2 linked regions of the Homo sapiens genome follow. Each later gene encodes a partner of the first gene's protein in a complex. Each region holds a gene or a part of one and is shown in the gene's direction. Other genes may lie near its edges.

Region 1 (8,307 bases):
TGTCTGTGAAAGCCATGAGCTTCTCTCCCTCTCCCACTCCTCCTCTCCTACTTTCAGATGGATTTATTCCTTTTTTAAACAATGAACATCGGAAATGAGACTGTGGGGTGTGGTTTCTCTCTCTCTTTTTTTTTTAATTTTCTTTGTTGGGTTTTTGAGCAACCTCATGTCCCCTTCCCAGGGAGCTTTTTAATTTACCTCTTAGAACTCAAGTGGATGGGAAGTAGAGCACTATGTGTCAGTATGCTTTGTTTTCTGACACGATTACACAGCGAGGCTTTAATGCCATTTGGGTAGGTGAGCTTCTGCACTTCTGTTGTGCTGAACTGTATTTTCTTCTCTCATCTCCTCTTTGTCTTTTTCTCTTTTCCTCTCCTTCCTGCCTTCTTCTGCTGGCCTCCTTTTCTCTTTCTTTACCTTCCTTGGATTATCCTTCCAGGTTTTCATAATAAATTTATATTTTGTAAAAGGATTTTGTTGTACCAGGTTTTGCATCCTCACTGAATCTGACTGGCTTTTATTTTCCTCTCCAAAATCAGGTTTTTGTTCTCAACATCTTTCCCCATCATGTCTAGTCACTGTTTTGGTTTTGGCACCATCAGTATCAAATGTACAAACGGTTCTTGCTAACCAACACCAGGTATATCTGATGTTCAGATGAGTTCCAATAAAAATAATTTTTTTTTTTTTCAAAAGGTGTCTTTTTCTTGAGTGCTGGAGGGCTTCCAAGCAAGTCCAGACAGCTCTGTGTGGCCCCACACTAGTCTAGCTCTCATCTGGCCAAAGCTGTTATCTCATTTGTGTAATGGGAGTCCTTAAGGTAAATTTGGGGTCCAAACTTGGAGGGCTTTGGGGGCAAGAAAGTTGGTGTGTGAGTTCTGAGGTTGGAAATGAGTTCAGGTGTCTTCTTCCAGGGCAGCATGGTCCAGTGAGCACATGTAAGTTTGGGCAGTAGATCCTCTGAGCCTACTTTCTCTTCTACTCAGTGAGGATGCTGCTTCCTTGGCAGGTGATTGTGATGTGAAGCTTAGTAAGTCATAGACGTGCAGGTGTCTGGAGAGTCCTGACATGCAGTTGTGGTTTCGTTTCCTTTTGGAATCTTCAAAGGCAGCGATTTTCATATTGCCTCACACCCTGGCGGGGGCGGGGGGCTCTGGGACCACTGGGGGACCTGCTAAATCCTCTTCAGTCTGAGCAGTTCAGCCATTGTCAGTTTTAGTATTGTGTCTCTGTATTTCACTTGCAGAAAGAGCTTTGCTTCTATAAAGGACTTTAAAAAGTACTCCAAAGAGATCTAGTTTTGGAGTAGAGGGGAGATGTTTTCTCAAACTTAGGGCAGTCCTGAGATGCTCAGGCAGTAGCCCTTTTCTCAGTTCCCTTTGCGGGTCTTGGTCAGATGATGCCCTCTAGACCCGTGCTGTCCAATATGTAGCCGCTAGCCATGTGCAGCTGTCAGGCCCTTGCAACGTGGCTGGTTCGAGCTGTGATACACTGCAAGTGTAAACACAAACCAGACTTCGAAGGCTTAGTATGATAACAAAAGAAAAGGAGTGTAAAATATGTCAATAACTTTTTTATATATGTGTTGAAATATTTTGGGTATTGGGTTAAATAAAATATATTATTAAAATTCACCTGTTTCCCTTTTACTTGTGTAATGTGGCTGCTAGAAAATATAAAGTTACCTATGTGGCTTCTATCTGGACAGCGCAGCTCTAGACCTCCAGGACCAGCAGTTGTGTCACTGCCTCCTCTCCCAGGCCTCTCATGACCTGAGTCCAGGCACAGCTGGGAAGGTCAGCTGGCCGGTGGGCTGGCCTGGGCCCGGCTCCCTCACCTCCCTTCTGGGCTCCAGCCTTCATGGTGCCAGGACTTTCTTGTGTGTTAATGAGACTCTACTGGAGTTGGGAGCAGAGGCTCTGGTCCCCTGCTGTGTGCTAGTTATGTAATCTGTGCTGCTCAGAAGGGCCACTAGATGCTGCTCTGTGATCCCTGAAAGAACAAAGCCGACTTCCTCAGGAGTAAGGGCTCAGGCCTGCTCTATTTGGAACCCTTCTTGGAAGCTGTAGCTGGCCCCCGCCTTGACCTCCCTCCCTCGGGATGCTATGGGAAGTGGGGCATGCAGGAAGAGTGGACTCTCCGGCAGTCCACGGGCAGCCCAGCCCAGCAGGGAAGCTAACAAGCAGGCTGGCCCTTCAGGCAGCTAGAGATAGGCAATAGGCTAAGTAGGCTGATTGATGGGGGTGGGATTTGGAAATCTTCCCTGCAGTTCTATGATGAAGGCAGCTAGGAAGAAAACAGCTCTGCCTCATTCAACTGGGTCTGCCTTCTGGGTCCTTGGTTCTGCCATTTCTGGCAGTTGACTGTCCTTTCTTCCTTGCTTCCAGTTGGAGCAGTGATAGGAACTGGGGGTGGGGAGGTGGTGGTGGGTTGAATGAAAAGAGGAGCTCTGTGGTGTCTGAAAACCAGCATAACAGGCATGGCCTGGGTGATAGGAGCTCCTGGAGACCCCTCCCTTAGTCGCAGCAGCAAGTGGGCTGCCAGTGCCATCCCATTCCTGCTGTGCTGCAACTGTGACTTTGCCTTGGGCAAGTGTGAGGAGGCTGGTGTTCTGCCGAGAGCTCTGTTTGAAGGTGCTAGGGAAAGGCTGGCTGGACAAAGGTGAGAAGACACAGGGTATGGCCTGGCTTGAAAAGGCCCATGCAGAGGCATGCTGCTGCAGAGTGGGAAGCAGGGTAGTGGGGTGAGCTTGGTCCGCCTCCCCGTGAATTGGAATAGCTAGAATTGAGATTGAGAGTTAAAGGTAACAGAGTGGGCCCAGGTTTTTCTAGGGGGTGGATTTTTCTTTTTTTAGCCGAAGTGTCACTCTGTCACCCAGGCTGGAATGCAGTGGCACAATCTCAGCTCACTGCAACCTCTGCCTCCCGGGTTCAAGCTATTCTCCTGCCTCAGCCTCCCGAGTAGCTGGGATTATAGGCACCCGCCACCACGCCCAGCTAATTTTTTTAGTAGAGACGGGTTTCACCATGTTGGCCAGGCTGGTCTCAAACTCCTGACCTCAGGTGATCCGCCCGCCTTGGCCTCTGAAACTGCTGGACACAGTGTGGCCATCACGCCTGGCCGGGGTGGATTATAGGCTTCAAAATTTGGACATATTTTGGGAAGTGGAAAACATTTAACCTTGGCTCAACACTAGAATCTGAAGGGGGGCACAGAGCCAACTCAGGAGCTAGAGGCTCCAAGTAAGGGCTGAGGAAAAGAGGCTGGGGTTCGGCTTTCCTTTGAGAAGGAAAAGGGACACTTGGTCAGGGTCTCGAAGCAAATCGTTTCTTCTGGCTTTTTTTTTTTTTTTTTTTTTTTTTTTGAGATGGAGTTTCGCTCTTGTTGCCCAGGCTGGAGTGCAATGGTGCAATCTCGGCCCACTGCAACCTCTGTCTCCCAGGTTCAAGCGATTCTCCTGCCTCAGCCTCCTGAGTAGCTGAGATTACAGGTGCCTGCCACCACGCCTGGCTAATTTTTTTTGTATTTTTAGTAGAGACGGGGTTTCACCATGTTGGCTAGGCTGGTCTCGAACTCCTGACCTCAGGTGATCCACCCGCCTCGGCCTCCCAAAATACTGGGATTACAAGCATGAGCCACTGCGTCGGCCTCTTCTGGCTTCTTACTGTTACATGCAGGAGGGTTGAGGACAGCTCCATTTGAAGAGCAGGTAGGCTTGTACACTGAGGAACATTCACAGGGAGGGGCGCACTGAGCTGGGGGCCTGCCTTCCTCTTCTGAGTTCCCATAACAGCTGTTGTGGATGTTCTGAAAGGCTGTGGACAAAGTAGCCCTCTGGGTACAGAGCAATGCATTTTCCACTGTATGCCTTGCCCCCCAAGGTTCCTAAAGCCTGGAATTCCTATTGACAGAAATCTGAGTGGCACATAAACAAAACCCAGCACTTTCTGCCTTGATTGCACCATTTTGAATGATGCCAGATTCCCTTTCTGTTCCCCCTAGGACAGTTGACAGGGCTGGTGAAAGCCTAGTCGGCTGGAGTGGTCAGGTAACTGGGTGGCATCCTCTCCTCTGGAGAGCCACTCCCTCATCTCTAGGTCCAGAGATAATCTGGATTAAGACAGGGCTTAAGTTTCCTGTTTCCCAGGTTTGTGGTCAGTTTTGACTCGATCTCCAGAAACAAGGTAAAATAGTAAATGAACAACAGCCTTTGTGAAGGATCTGGATTCACATCTGACAGGAACAGCTTTCAGAAACAGAATTTTACTCAATTTCGCTAGCATCAAGTTCTCAAATTATACATACTTAGAATTGAAAACGTTTAAGAGGGTCAGAAAGCTGGCCGGAGGGGCAGTTGCTTCAGCTTTAATATGACAAATAAGAGGGCGAGTGGGAACTTAGAGGTCATATTTGTGACGGGCTCAGGCTTGGCTACGGGCCACGCTTCTCTGGCTTGGATCTCTGAGGCCCACTTCGGCCGCGGTCATCTACCCATGATGAGGGAACGGAGGCCCCGGAGGGGTGGCCAGAACCGATTGGACTGTCCACTCGAGGTGCGCGTGGCACTCGGGAGGCCTCAGTAAAGGCGTCGCCTCTCCCCGCCCAGGGCCTTCTTCCCCGCGCTCCCTGGCTGCTTTCCACAGGGACGGGGATGTCAGGTGGAAGGAGGGAGCTCCGGACCCTGGCCTCGGCGGAGGGCTCCTCACCAGGCCAGGGCGGCAGCCTCAGAGAGGGCGGGCCGCGCGCTGCCAGGGCAGGGACTCGGCCGAGAGTGCCCCCGCGGCCGGCAGCTGCGGGCGCCGCGGCGGGAACAAAGGCAGCACGTGTCTGGGCGGGACGCGGGCGGGGTCGGCCCTCGGCTCCGCCCTGCTCGGCGCCCGCCCCGCGTCGGCAGAGTTGGGTTGCGCGGGCGCCGAGGACTCTCCGGCGGCCGGGCTGCTGTTGGGCGGCGGCGCGGAGCGGGCGGCGAGCTGTGCGGGAGGGGCGGCCCCGAGGGGCGGGGCGGGCCGACGCCGCGTGTCCCGCCGCAGCCGCGGAGTCCGGCTCCTAGATGGGGCCCGGCGCGTAGAGGTGCCTCCCGCTCGTTGCCGCGTCCTACCCGCACCGTGCGCGGCTCGAGCTGAGGACACCAACGGCCGCGACTCCCCGGCGAGACCAGGCCGGAGCGTGGACGGCGCGCGCGCCCCGCGAGGGAGGGCGCTGAGGCGCGCGCCGGAAGCGGGAGCGGGAGCGGGAGCGCGGCGGCGGCGGCGAAGGTGCGGGCGGCCGAGCGGGGGGCGGGGCTGCGGTGCCTGCAGAACCTTGGACAGAAGCTCCCTAGCTGCCGCCGCCGCCGCCGCCGCCGTCGCCGCCGCCGAGCGCGAGCCCAGCCGATCCCCGCCGAGCGCCCCCGAGCGCCGCCGAGCGCCGGGACCGCGGCGGCGGGGCCGCGGCGCGCATTGCGGAGGGCGCGGAGCGCAGGAGCTGCCGCCTGCCGGGTAAGCCTGCGCTGGGCGGCCGTCCTTGGCCCTGGGGAGCGGAGACCGGGGTCGCGCCCGTGCGGGGTGTCCAGGCGGGGGTCCTCGGCCGCCTCCGTCGGCGACCGGGCCCCTCCCGGCTGCGCCTGGGGACCGCAGCGGCGGCGGCGGGCGGGGGTGCTGCAGTGGAGGCGGCGAGGCTGCGTCGCGGGGGCGCGGGTAGGGCCCGGGACTGGGGCGGCGGGGTGCGCCGAGGCGCGGGGCGGAGGGGCGCAGGGGCGCAGGGGCGCGGCGCGGAGCCCAGCCTGGCGCTAAGAACCATCTTGTTTTCCAGGCAGATCCAAGGGGGCAGCACGCTTCCCGGGAGCGCCCCCGCCTCCTCTCCGGGGCCGCCGCAGGCTCGGTGAGCGGTTTTATCCCTCCGGCCGGCAGGCTGGGCGCGCAGGGGCGCGAGCCCCCGCCCGGCGCGCAGCAGCACCATGGGCACGGTGCTGTCCCTGTCTCCCAGCTACCGGAAGGCCACGCTGTTTGAGGATGGCGCGGCCACCGTGGGCCACTATACGGCCGTACAGAACAGCAAGAACGCCAAGGACAAGAACCTGAAGCGCCACTCCATCATCTCCGTGCTGCCTTGGAAGAGAATCGTGGCCGTGTCGGCCAAGAAGAAGAACTCCAAGAAGGTGCAGCCCAACAGCAGCTACCAGAACAACATCACGCACCTCAACAATGAGAACCTGAAGAAGTCGCTGTCGTGCGCCAACCTGTCCACATTCGCCCAGCCCCCACCGGCCCAGCCGCCTGCACCCCCGGCCAGCCAGCTCTCGGGTTCCCAGACCGGGGGCTCCTCCTCAGTCAAGAAAGCCCCTCACCCTGCCGTCACCTCCGCAGGGACGCCCAAACGGGTCATCGTCCAGGCGTCCACCAGTGAGCTGCTTCGCTGCCTGGGTGAGTTTCTCTGCCGCCGGTGCTACCGCCTGAAGCACCTGTCCCCCACGGACCCCGTGCTCTGGCTGCGCAGCGTGGACCGCTCGCTGCTTCTGCAGGGCTGGCAGGACCAGGGCTTCATCACGCCGGCCAACGTGGTCTTCCTCTACATGCTCTGCAGGGATGTTATCTCCTCCGAGGTGGGCTCGGATCACGAGCTCCAGGCCGTCCTGCTGACATGCCTGTACCTCTCCTACTCCTACATGGGCAACGAGATCTCCTACCCGCTCAAGCCCTTCCTGGTGGAGAGCTGCAAGGAGGCCTTTTGGGACCGTTGCCTCTCTGTCATCAACCTCATGAGCTCAAAGATGCTGCAGATAAATGCCGACCCACACTACTTCACACAGGTCTTCTCCGACCTGAAGAACGAGAGCGGCCAGGAGGACAAGAAGCGGCTCCTCCTAGGCCTGGATCGGTGAGCACTGTAGCCTGCGTCATGGCTCAAGGATTCAATGCATTTTTAAGAATTTATTATTAAATCAGTTTTGTGTACAGTATGTGTCTAGCAAAGCCACCAAGGGCCTCACCTTTCCCACAGTCTCTCCCTGGGGTTTTTTTCATCCCTGCCAAGAACTCTGGGCACTTTTGAACTCACGAGCCTTGCGCAAAACCCAGAAGATGTATTCAGAGCCACCCAGGCCACTGACCTCCCACTTTGGGGAACTCAAAGGACTGACCTGCCCCTGCCGCCTGTGCCCTTGCTGGGTCCAGGGTAGGCAAGGCTGCCGGCTGCACCCTGTATGGAGCTAGAGAGGGGCCTCTGGCTGCCTGGCCCAGGGAGGAATTGGGGTTTCTGGTTGGAGGCCCTTTTCTGGCTCCTGTGTGGAGTTATTCACTCTCCCAGAGGCTCCTGGAGCCAGCCACCCTAACTGAGCTGCCAGTGGGGTCGTGAGGCAAGATCCCCGCCACCCGGGGACATCTTCAATCTAGGCGAGGCGAAGCTGAGCGGGTCTAGTGGAAAGATTGTGTCTGGTCGTTTGACCACACACCGCCCTGATTTGCTGTTTTCTTTTTTTAGGGAGAAGGGCTTTTCTTTAGTGGAGAAATGGAACTCGCCCCCCTACCCCCTTGTCTGCTGCTCCCAGCCACGTTGGTGGTATTGGCCGATGAGCTGGTTTGACTCATTAATTTCTCTCAATTTGGGTCCCAGCTAAAGAGGTGGGGTGAAGCTGGGGACAGCTTTCCTGGGTGAGTTTTTCTTTTGAATAATGTAGTGCAGTCACCCTGTGGCAAATGCCAGGACAGCTGCAGGTGCCCATTAGCAACGCCTGCCTTCTGGGCAAGGTGAGGGATGCCATACCTTGAGACCAAGCCGGTGCCCACCTAAGGGCTAAGGCCTCTTGCTGGTGCACATGACATTTGTCCTGCAGAGCTGGGGGGAAGGCGATGTGGTGACCCCACCCCCACCCGTTAATTTAAAGCTGTTTCTAAACAGTTGAGTTTCTTCTAAAGAGGAAGCCTTGCCCAGCAAGGACCAGTGAGACAGCCGGATCTTGGAGACAATTACAAGACGGGGAGTGAGACTCCTGATTGCTCTGGAAGCCTGCTGATTTCTACAACTGATCATTTGCAGCTGCTGGTTTTGGTTTCCACCTTACCCTACTGGCTGTAAAAACACAAATGTGTACTTTATTGATTTTCTTTCTAATTCTCCCGCATTGGTGGCTTGGGACTTGGGAGAGGGAGCAAGCCTTCCTCCATGGCCCATCACTCGGCTGTGGAGAACAAAGACCAATGTGAAGACACTACAGAGGATTCTGTCTTCCAGGCCCAGTCCACTGGGGAGTGCTGGAATGGGGACCTGGGGTGGGGAGGCAGAGGGTCACTTTACATAGGATTAAGTTCGAGGTGGCTACCGATTTCAGCA
Region 2 (10,285 bases), on another chromosome or scaffold:
AGAACCCTGGCCCGCGTGCAGACTTGACCTGCGCCTCTAAGGCCAGCCGGGTCTGAGACGGGTTGCTGGGTGAGAGACCCAGGGTTCTCAAAGTTCCTCAACCGCTGAGGCTAAGCTACCTAGGTCTTCAGGTAACAGCCTCAACTCCCTCCCCAGGACTGGAAGACGTCTGATACCCCCACTACCCATCCCCCCCTACGACCATCATGCAAAGTCAGGGTAGGGATGGCAGCATCCTCCCAGTCTCCACACTCACACACGCTCACACCCCTGGTTGGCGAGGACCCTTGGCCGGAGCACCCAAGGCTGCCCAGGGAGGGAAGGTTGGGCTGGCGACCTGGGGGCCACACTCACCGTACAGAAAGAATCTGCGCCCTTGGCGGGGCGCCGAGGGGCGCTGCTCATGGCCGAATCTTAGCCCTTTTCGCTGTCGCTGCGGCTTTCAGGGCAACGAGGCGGAGGCATAACCTGGATGGGGGAGAGGCCTGATCACCATCGAGAGCCCTGGGAGGGCAGGAGCCACCACGCGCAGGCTGCGCTGCTGGGGATCCTCCTGGAGTATGAAGGGCCTCAGAGTGGCCCTTAGCGGCAGCCACAGCACAGAGGAGAGTTATTTATAGGAAGAAAAGAGAAGAACAAGGAGACAGGAGAGGACTGAGGCGAGGGGGGCCGAAAAGGGCCGAGAGGCTGAGTAGAGGGAGGAGGAGAGAGGAGGTGGGAAAGGCCGCAAGAAAAATGAGGGAGAAAGGAGTCAAGGCCCAGGCCCGGAGAGAAAGCAACAAAGATGAGGGAGGGAGTGATAATGAGCTGGGGAAAGAGGGGAGTGAAGGCCCAGGCAGACAACGGAGCCTCGCAGGGTCAGGGCACCCACCAGAGGTGGGCCTGAGACCAGAGAGGGTGTGGTGGGGAGGGTGAGACACCCCGTGGAGCCGGGGCCGGGCTGCCGAGACAGGAAGCAGACGAATGGAAGAACTCTGGAGAGAGCCCAAGATGCCCCTGCAGGGAGGGGGTGCCCCCTCCCCAGTACAGGCCGGCAGGAGGCTTCCCTCCCCCAGGTCCTTGGGGACCGGCAGGAGGGAAGCAGGCTGGCTGGGTGGAGGGCAGGAGCTCAACTCCACTCACTCACTGAGAGAGAGGAAGGCACAGAAGGTGGGCATGGGCTGGGCAGAGCTTTATAATGGGGGAGGGGCATGTGATGGGCTGGGAGGGGGTGGGCACCGCAACCTTGAGGTTCTGCCTCTGAGGGGCAGTCTGGATCCCGCCCCTCTAGAGCCTGGAGCCAGGAAAATCTGAGTGGCAGTGCTGCCACCCTCCTGACTGTGACTGTAGGGAGTCTGGGGAGGACACTGTGTGGTGGGGGCAGAGAAGGAGCTGCAGGAGGGAGCCCAATCCCTGCAAATAGGGGGCGCATTCCTAGCGGGTCAGCACAGGGGGCACCCAAGACTGGCAAAAAGTGACGGTACCCAACAACCCATGCTCCCAGTGTGTTGCTGGGGACTGGGGGTGCCTGACTTAGGAGTAAGACAAGTCAGTGTAGCGTCAAACAATATAGGTCTGGGGGGGTCACCCAGGATGGGGAGCCTGGCAACACATTCTTGGCAAGCACTCCAACTTGGCTAACCACGCTCTTCCCCTCCCCCTCAGCAGGCCTTCAGCCAGGGCGGGTGGTGTGGGTGAGCGTGAGTGCACCCAGTCTGGGAAGGGTGTGGGGAGAGTCCGCCCAGAGCACCTGCAGGCGCCCACTCCCACCTCAGGCTGTGCCCTCGTCGCGCTCCTCCACACTCCTCTGCACCCCCTCCCCTGCTGTCCCAGAACACAAAGCAGCTTCTGTCCAGAGCATCGGTGCCGATAATCCGGGTAGGGGCACATTCCCGGGACCAGCCCCGACCGGCCCAGAGGATTAGTATCTCTCCCCTTGACCAAGGGATTAGCACCTCGGACCCCCACTTGGGCATTAACCACCCCCCAAGTGAACTCGTAAATTCCGCAGCTCTTCCATGTGGGGCTGGCGGGGGAAACGAAGGGGGATAAAGTAGACCCTGGGTTTCAGGCAGTGCCGCCTCTCACACCCAGCACAGAACTTCCCGCCTGGACAAACCGACCCCGGGAGTCAGGTCCAACTCTCCGGGCTCATCTTTCCCATTCCCACCCAGCTGCTCCCTCTTCTGTCTGACCCCTTGTCCGACCTTACCCGCCACCCGCCTTTCCTGGCTTCGCCTCTCAACCCGGAGATTGGGGATGGGGGCCCCGGGCAACCCCCAGTCTGGGCGCCCCGGACGGGACTGAAGGACTATGCGGGGGGGCCGGAGGGGAGGGGTGGTCTGGAGCCAGCCGGGGAGTGGGAGGGCCGGCGGCGCCTCGGGGAGACTACCCCCTCCTGGTGGCAGGGGGCGCGGCACCCTGGCTTTAGGGAACTCTGAGAAGGGGACCCCGGAATGCCCGCTTCCGACCAGCACTCCATCCGCCTCCCCATCCTTCTCCCCAAGACCGCGGTTCCCCGCGCCCCAGTCTCCGCCCTTTCCTCCACTTCCACTCCCTCCCCGCTCGAGTCCCGAGTTCCCCCCTCTCCTTCCCCCTCCCTTCCTCCCTCTGCGGCCCTGGCCGTCCCCCGCCACCACCTCTCCGCCTACCCGCTCGCTCTGGACTTCGTGCCCCGGGGGTCTCGGGGTCTCTCCCCGTCCTCCGGCGCACTCGCGCGCTCCCGACGACTGCCCCGTGCCCACCCCGGGGCGCGCCCCCGCCGCTCCCAACTTCTCCCAACTCAACTTTCCCCCGCGCCGCGGGCAGGCCAGCCCCCTGCGTGCGCGCCCCCCGGCGCACCGTGCGCGGTCCCGCCTTCGCGGGTGGGGAGGCGGGAGCGGGGGCCGGGGCGGGGGCGCGCTTCCAGGCACAGCCCGGCACCAGGGGCCGCCCCCGCCGTCCCTCTGCCCCAAGCTTCTCCACTCGGGGCTCGGGAGCCCCGAGGATGCCGTCCCTTGGCTCCATTACGGCACCTCTGAGTGTAAAGGAGCCCTTCTCACGCTAGGGATCCCAGGCAGCAAAACGCAGGCACAAGGAAATTCGGGGAAGTCGAAACATAAACGTATCGGGGTTGAGATTCTCTTGCCCCCCTCAATAACCCCCGTGCCTCCAAGAAAGCCCCTGAGGGACGGGTGGCGAGTGGGTGAGAAGGGTGACAGGGGCTGGAGGCTGGCCGCCCGGTACCCTGAGCTGATCTGGGAGAGGGTAACTTGTTAGAGGCTCTCCACTTCCAGAGAGGGACAGAGATTCGCTGTGCTGGCCTCCTTCCTCTTGAATGGAACCTCCACACTGAACCGAACCCTAGGCAGAGCCATCACTTATCATTCAAGACCTTTGTGTGTAGTTCTTTTTTGCCCAACGAAATCACAAAGTCTTCCAGATAAGGAATACACTTTTTGCTTCTTTTCCCTTGTGTATGCAAAAGCATTCAGATAGAAACGAGTTAATTAACACGTGTTTAGCAGCAACTCTGGTTCCGGTGCTGAGGAGTGCTGTTTGGGATCCTTTTCCCTCGGTCCATAGCCCTCAAGAATGCAATCATGAGACAATTAGAGAGGCAGCGTAAGGGAATCTATAATCAGCTCCTTTAAGGGGTGAGGCAGAGGCTGCTGCAAGTTGAGCATCGGTCTGTGGTCTTGTCTGTGGAGGGGGTTAACCAACCTGCCTGCCACACCCTGGCTGACTCCAGTGGGCCCTGTTCCGGAGACTGGGGTCTGAGGGGGACCCCCAGGGCTCCACCCAGTTTTCCTCAGCATGTCAGAGTTCAGCGGCTAGAGTCGGGTGGGCTCCGAGACAACAAACGGGGCTCAGCAGAGAGGGGGTCTTTGGCGTGTGTCCCTCCACTAAAATCCAGCCTCGAAGGGGCACAGCTGTTCTCCCAGCCCTGCGGTCAGCTGTTCCCTGTGAGGTCATCATCGCTCACAGGCATTCCCCAGTCAATTCTGGGGTCACTAGGTGGCTTGGGGAGAGGTGGAAACCCGTGCTGAGGTCGTCAAGAGGCCGTTGGGAACACAATGCCACCAACCAGGTCAGCGCTGGGCCGCCAGTGCCCGGGATCTAGGCCGCCAAACCCCAAACCCCTAACCGAGAGCGCTCCGCCCCCATTTCCGCTGCATTCTGGAACGCGTAGTCCCGGAGCGGCCCTTTTCAAGAGGGCTGGGAGCACATAAAAGGAATAACAACAGCGGGGCACACTGGGAACCACGGCGCCGCGGCGGGGCGCCCGGAAAACGGACACGCGTTGCTTCCTGGGACTTGAAGTCCAAGGTTTGCCTCCGCGGTAGAAACGGAGCCCTGGAGTCGAGTGCTGCAGAGAGCGTGAGCGCAGACGGCTGGGGGTTGTAGTCTTCTTGTCCTCGGTCTCGGGCATTGCGGGGAGACCTAGTCGTTTTAGGACTACAAGCCCCAGAAGGCCCTGCGCGGGCAGACGGGGCGGGGCTGGAGGCTCAGGTGCCGCCTCCTCTGCAACGCCGGGGCCAGAGTCTTAAAACCGAGGGCCCGCAGGGGTCCCCGCGGCCGCCGCGATGCAGAAATACGAGAAACTGGAAAAGATTGGGGAAGGTAATGGAATCTCGAGATGTTCCTGCAAGAGCTCCTCTGCAGATCCTTCGGCATTCCTTGAAGCCCTGGCTCCCTTACCGTCAGCAATGCCTACAGGCTCCGATCTCAGCAGCGGCTGCAGCCCTGGCCCCCTAGCTCAGCACTCCGTGCAGACACCAGTCTTCCCCGTGTTAGCATTTCCCGCAGGGCTCTCACTCCAACCTTAGCGTTCCCAGTAGACCCGACCTCCCAACCGCGACACTTCCTGAAATTTCTCACCCCAGCCTCAGCAGCACTTGGACAACCTCACCCCGACCCCCAGCCTCGTTTCTTGCTGCAGACCTCCAACCTCAATATTTCTGCAGCCCCTCAGTCCTCTCCCAGACCCCTCCTCACTATTTCCAGACCCTTCCGGAGCACCGCCTTCATTTTAGACATCCTTGCCCTGGCAACCGCACTCGCCCCTCCTGCCGAGCCCCTGGAGCCTCGGTGGGCACCTTCTCCTCCCTCCCCACCTGCCACATCCTCACTCACAAAGCTCACCAACCTACCTTCACCCTGAATCCCTTCCCTTGCATACTGAGACGCTGCCTTCACCTCTCTCAGGAGGCATTTCCTGGCTTAGGGAAGAGTGCCGCATCCTCACCCTGACCCCTGACCTCCTTCCCCTAGGCACCTACGGAACTGTGTTCAAGGCCAAAAACCGGGAGACTCATGAGATCGTGGCTCTGAAACGGGTGAGGCTGGATGACGATGATGAGGTAGGACTGGGGAGTGGGATACGGCCTGGGGAGGGGTTTGAGGGCCTGGGCTGGGTGGGATCTGACTGCTGCCCACCGGCCCCCTCACATATGCAGGGTGTGCCGAGTTCCGCCCTCCGGGAGATCTGCCTACTCAAGGAGCTGAAGCACAAGAACATCGTCAGGTGTGCGGGAGGCGGGTGCTCCTTGCCGGTGTGGCCGCTTGGGGGAGGCGGGGGCTGACACTGGACGTCTGTCAGGCGGACCTGCCTGGCTGAGCCCTTCTTTTGCCCTAGGCTTCATGACGTCCTGCACAGCGACAAGAAGCTGACTTTGGTTTTTGAATTCTGTGACCAGGTGAAAGGCGGGGTTTGGAGGACAGTAGCCTTGGGAAGGTATAGGGGCCCAGATTGAGGTTAAACTCTGTCCCATTCCCCCACTCATATCCCTTTTCAGGACCTGAAGAAGTATTTTGACAGTTGCAATGGTGACCTCGATCCTGAGATTGTAAAGGTGAGGAGAGTGGTGTTGGGGGACCCCTCAGGCTGGGGTCGGAGTCTGCATTCGGTGTAAGCACCCCTTGGGCTCTAAGTTTGGGCCCTGAACAGGGACACTCTAGGGTGTTAGAGAATGAGAAAACCCTGTTTCTGTCCTCCAGGGGTCTCCAGTCTTAGTGAGCATTTTCACGTGGTCATCTTTGACCCGCACAGTGTCATTCTGATGTCAGTGATATTATTTACACTCGAGAGATGAGAAAATGAGGTTCAAGGAGATACACTCATTCATTCAACACATACTTACTGAATGCTTCACTGTGTGCCAGGTGCTTTTCTAGGCCCAAGACCAAATGCCTTGGTCCAGGTTCCAGGGGAGCCAGTCCTGAATGATACTACAGCACGATATTTATGTTGATGTTCACGGCGTGCATACTCAGATGCGGCCAGGAAGGGAAGATCAGCATGGGCTGGGATCTAGGCCGGATCTAGGATCCACCTGCCAAGGCCCATTAGGCTGTATGGTCCAGGAAGGTGGGGACCAGAGCCAGCTTCTTTACTTTGGTCCCTCTAATGCCTAGCACAGTATAAAGCAGGTCCTGGATGGCGAATGAATGGTGTCACTCTGAACCAGGTGCTGAAAGGTGGGTGGGGTGGAGCGAAGCACAGGGTGAGGAGAGGAGCCGACCCGTTGCTGGGCACAGTTGCATGTTCAGGGCGTCTGACTCCCTTCTCCCTCTCTCCTCCCAGTCATTCCTCTTCCAGCTACTAAAAGGGCTGGGATTCTGTCATAGCCGCAATGTGCTACACAGGGACCTGAAGCCCCAGAACCTGCTAATAAACAGGGTACTTCTTGGGAAGAAGGTGGGGAATGGAGAGGCTGGGGCCAGGGCACGGGGAGCACAGAGGGAAGAGGACTGGGAGGATGGAGTTGGTGCTGTCCCAAGGCTTTTTAAAGGCCCTTCTCCATGTCCCCTTCCCATTCCCTTCAGAATGGGGAGCTGAAATTGGCTGATTTTGGCCTGGCTCGAGCCTTTGGGATTCCCGTCCGCTGTTACTCAGCTGAGGTGAGCTAGAAGATGGGATATGGGATTGGGGGAGGGAGTCCCTCAGCTCCAACCCCAGGACCCAAAACATTATTTTCCTCTCCTCTCTGAGCCTCCTCCTCAAACCTCCTCCCCAGTCCTCTAAGTGGGAGGTCCCTTTCGGGGGGGGTCTCCTCCAGGTGGTCACACTGTGGTACCGCCCACCGGATGTCCTCTTTGGGGCCAAGCTGTACTCCACGTCCATCGACATGTGGTCAGCCGGCTGCATCTTTGCAGGTGATGTGCTGGGGTGTTGCAGAGGCACCTTCTTTCCCATTTGAGTTGACAAATAGGGTCTGGAGGGTCCCCTCTGGGGGAAGGGAGGGAGGCCCTGGGACTGGAGCTGGAAGGTCAGGGGGTACCTCAGAGTGAGGGGTCCTTCACATGTCACATCTTAGCCCCCTGTCTATCCCCCAGAGCTGGCCAATGCTGGGCGGCCTCTTTTTCCCGGCAATGATGTCGATGACCAGTTGAAGAGGATCTTCCGATATCCTTGCTTTCCTCTGCCTTGAGCCCTCTGGGAGGGGAGAGTCCATGGAGTTTTGAGCACAATGGGTGAGGGCAGTGATGGTGTGGGGTAGGGTGATGGGGTCTGTAGGGCTTCTCCTGAGGGCAAGGGGAGAGAGCAGGGGTGCTGGACACCCTGATTGTCACAGTGCAAATGCACACTGGAGAAGGTGTGGCTTGGAGACAGGCAGCGTGCCCTGAGGGGTGAAGCCGAGAGGGTGTCCCTCCAGGTGAGAGATGGATGCCAGGATGAAGGAGCCAAAGAGAACAGGACACATTTTGTGGGAGCAGGGCAAGGACTGTTTCATTAGGACTAGGACAGCAGCATGTGGGTTAGGTGATTGTCATGGGAAACGTGGCTGGATATGCGAGTGACCTGCCTGGGGCTGCTTCTGTCAAGCTCAAGCCGGAGGGTAAAGGGAGGGTGAGAAGTGGGCGGTGGGTATGAGGAATCCCTCCCCAGGAGGGGAAGAGGCCCTCACCCTGCCCCTGAAGATGCAGCTGTGGCCCTTTCCCAAGTGATCCTTGACTCCGTGGACACACTGCTGGGGACGCCCACCGAGGAGCAGTGGCCCTCTATGACCAAGCTGCCAGACTATAAGGTGTGATGGGGAATGTGGGGGTCATGGTTCATCAGGGTCACTCGTTTCACATTCCTAGCGCCTCCATCCCCCTCCCCCTACCTCTAGTCTGACCCTCCCTGCCTCTCCACAGCCCTATCCGATGTACCCGGCCACAACATCCCTGGTGAACGTCGTGCCCAAACTCAATGCCACAGGGAGGGATCTGCTGCAGGTAGGTGACCAGGGGTAGAGGGTGGGTCAGGACACTTGCCCAGTGGGACTACAGGAAGGCAGGGCTCTGGGCAGTGACCTGTCCTGAACCTGCCACCTCCTTTCCCCCATCTCCAGAACCTTCTGAAGTGTAACCCTGTCCAGCGTATCTCAGCAGAAGAGGCCCTGCAGCACCCCTACTTCTCCGACTTCTGTCCGCCCTAGGCCCCGGGACCCCCGGCCTCCAGGCTGGGGCCTGGCCTATTTAAGCCCCCTCTTGAGAGGGGTGAGACAGTGGGGGTGCCTGGTGCGCTGTGCTCCAGCAGTGCTGGGCCCAGCCGGGGTGGGGTGCCTGAGCCCGAATTTCTCACTCCCTTTGTGGACTTTATTTAATTTCATAAATTGGCTCCTTTCCCACAGTCTGGTTGATGTGGTGGTCAAGTGGCTCTACAGGGCCCATGGGCTGGAGGTGTCTCTGGTCTGTTACTGCCGGCCGCAATCCTGCTTCTGGCTCAAAGACAGCACCTTGCTCTTCTACTTTAAGAGGCCATGACCCTCACCCCTCACCCCTGGGGCAGGGCAGCACTGTCGCTGCACACCCCTTCCTCCCACCCTCCCTTCCTCTGCCCAGGAGGGCCTGATGTGGTCCCTCAGAGTGAGGGGAGCAAGGATGGGCTCCCCACCAGGGTGGAGAGGAAAGGGCTGGGCCTCTCCTTGTGGTTCTCCATATCTCAGGTGGATCCTCTTGTCCTTTCCCTCATCATCCCCCCCATACCAAGGCCTGCAGGCTGGCACAGGAGAGCCCCAAAGATATGGTTCCATCAGGAACACCCCCTCCCACTCCCTATTTGTCAGTTTCCCAATGTTTGGGGTCCAGTGAAAGAGAGGGAAGTTGGGCCTGTGGCTGGGGCCTGGTGTGTCCTTACTGGCAGGAAGAGGAAGGGAGGGCTCCGCCTACCCCCACCCCCACCCCCACCGTCTCAAGCCTGGGGCCTTTAGCTCTTGTGGGGAGGCTGAGGAGGCAGAACTTGTTTGTATGGAGACAGGCTGTGTGCCGCACTTGGTCCCAAATGTGGGAAAGGAGTCAGGATGTAAGGCAGGACACAGGTGTTCTTGAAAGTGGAGTCACCCCGTCTTCTCCCTGCCTCTTCTTGCTGAGCTCTGGGCAGAGTTTTCTTCCAGTTATACCTTTATTGCTGACTGTGATTCTGCACCTCACACCTAACCCGGGCTTGGAGGATACCTGTCCTCCCTTCTCTCTAAGATGTCAGTCGGCTAAACTCACTCACACTGAGGTGCAAATGACTGATAACCTCTTGCTACCATTCTCCCCTAGAGATTCATGGGGGTTCAAGGGCCCAGCTCCACATTTCAGAAGCCACGTCCAGCTGGATGATGGCTGGCAGAAGACTTCCAATGCCTAAGTTGGGCTGACCTTGGCTTGGCTAGTCTCTGCCCTGTAAGAGAAACAGCTGAGGCTGATGCATTAGGACTTTATTTGGGGTGAAGACGGAAAAGCTACGTGCAGGCTAGGCATGTCCAGGATGTCAGGGCGGGGCTCCGAGGACACAGACAGCAGGTCTAGAGCTGTGTGACAAGGTAGCAGGTGCGGTGGGAGGCGGAGAGAGTCTTGGTGACGGCACAGGGAGGGGTGGGAGGTCTTCGGAACAGAGCAGAGTGCTGGGGTGGGAACGGGCACACCCACTGTCCTGAGCCTGCCCCTGCCCTCCCTTGATTTTAGGGGGCCATTATGTGTTACCTGGGGCCCAGGCTGAGGTGGGGAACTTGGGTTCGATGGCTGCCCAGCCCTTCCTGAAGCTGTGTGAGGACGAGAGGGTCAGAGGTGGGGAGTGGTCCTCCTCCCAGGGACCAGTCGAGGTCACTGCACACCCTCCTGCCTGTTTCTCCTCAGCTGGGGCGGGATGGTGGTCTAGGCTTCAGGGGTGGGCCCTAGCACCCTTGGAGCAGGCAAGGGCTCCAGAAGAGGGGCTGTTACCAGATTGGTGCTGGAGTGCCTTTGGGAGTGCTGTCGGTTCCAGAAATATCCCAGGACCTTGTCTCGGAACACCTGGAGGCAAGCAGGATGGGAGGTGGCCAGTGCACACCTTCCCCCTCATCCTAGGGGC

The links.
Region 2: the proteins of CDK5R1 (region 1) and CDK5 are in contact, whole or in part, in a crystal structure (PDB 3O0G), measured with the Homo sapiens proteins. Residues at the interface, in NP_003876.1 of Homo sapiens: Trp190 (codon at 6,503), Gln193 (codon at 6,512), Thr197 (codon at 6,524), Pro198 (codon at 6,527), Ala199 (codon at 6,530), Phe203 (codon at 6,542), Tyr231 (codon at 6,626), Leu232 (codon at 6,629), Ser235 (codon at 6,638), Tyr236 (codon at 6,641), Met237 (codon at 6,644), Gly238 (codon at 6,647), Asn239 (codon at 6,650), Glu240 (codon at 6,653), Ile241 (codon at 6,656), Ser242 (codon at 6,659), Tyr243 (codon at 6,662), Pro244 (codon at 6,665), Leu245 (codon at 6,668), Lys254 (codon at 6,695), Glu255 (codon at 6,698), Trp258 (codon at 6,707), Asp259 (codon at 6,710), Cys261 (codon at 6,716), Leu262 (codon at 6,719), Ile265 (codon at 6,728), Asn266 (codon at 6,731), Ser269 (codon at 6,740), Ser270 (codon at 6,743), Met272 (codon at 6,749); in NP_004926.1 of Homo sapiens: Leu37 (codon at 5,304), Asp38 (codon at 5,307), Glu42 (codon at 5,319), Gly43 (codon at 5,418), Pro45 (codon at 5,424), Ser46 (codon at 5,427), Ser47 (codon at 5,430), Leu49 (codon at 5,436), Arg50 (codon at 5,439), Ile52 (codon at 5,445), Cys53 (codon at 5,448), Leu54 (codon at 5,451), Lys56 (codon at 5,457), Glu57 (codon at 5,460), Val69 (codon at 5,607), His71 (codon at 5,613), Leu76 (codon at 5,628), Arg120 (codon at 6,590), Asn121 (codon at 6,593), Val122 (codon at 6,596), Leu147 (codon at 6,817), Arg149 (codon at 6,823), Ala150 (codon at 6,826), Phe151 (codon at 6,829), Gly152 (codon at 6,832), Ile153 (codon at 6,835), Pro154 (codon at 6,838), Arg156 (codon at 6,844), Cys157 (codon at 6,847), Tyr158 (codon at 6,850).

What each region holds. Positions count from the first base shown.
Region 1 is NC_000017.11:32,481,686-32,489,992, forward strand, and holds the start of CDK5R1 (cyclin-dependent kinase 5 activator 1), read left to right. Parts: upstream 1-5,307; 5' UTR 5,308-5,477; intron 5,478-5,790; 5' UTR 5,791-5,935; coding exon 5,936-6,859; 3' UTR 6,860-8,307. UniProt on the Homo sapiens protein: p35 is a neuron specific activator of CDK5. The complex p35/CDK5 is required for neurite outgrowth and cortical lamination. Involved in dendritic spine morphogenesis by mediating the EFNA1-EPHA4 signaling. Activator of TPKII.
Region 2 is NC_000007.14:151,052,108-151,062,392, reverse strand, and holds CDK5 (cyclin-dependent kinase 5), read left to right. Parts: upstream 1-4,495; 5' UTR 4,496-4,544; coding exon 4,545-4,581; intron 4,582-5,232; coding exon 5,233-5,321; intron 5,322-5,417; coding exon 5,418-5,485; intron 5,486-5,596; coding exon 5,597-5,657; intron 5,658-5,756; coding exon 5,757-5,813; intron 5,814-6,544; coding exon 6,545-6,640; intron 6,641-6,786; coding exon 6,787-6,861; intron 6,862-7,019; coding exon 7,020-7,116; intron 7,117-7,296; coding exon 7,297-7,366; intron 7,367-7,927; coding exon 7,928-7,988; intron 7,989-8,100; coding exon 8,101-8,181; intron 8,182-8,297; coding exon 8,298-8,384; 3' UTR 8,385-8,578; downstream 8,579-10,285. Other genes in the region: SLC4A2 (anion exchange protein 2), read right to left, coding at 355-405; ASIC3 (acid-sensing ion channel 3), read right to left, coding at 9,707-9,839, 9,919-9,977, 10,156-10,227. UniProt on the Homo sapiens protein: Proline-directed serine/threonine-protein kinase essential for neuronal cell cycle arrest and differentiation and may be involved in apoptotic cell death in neuronal diseases by triggering abortive cell cycle re-entry. Interacts with D1 and D3-type G1 cyclins.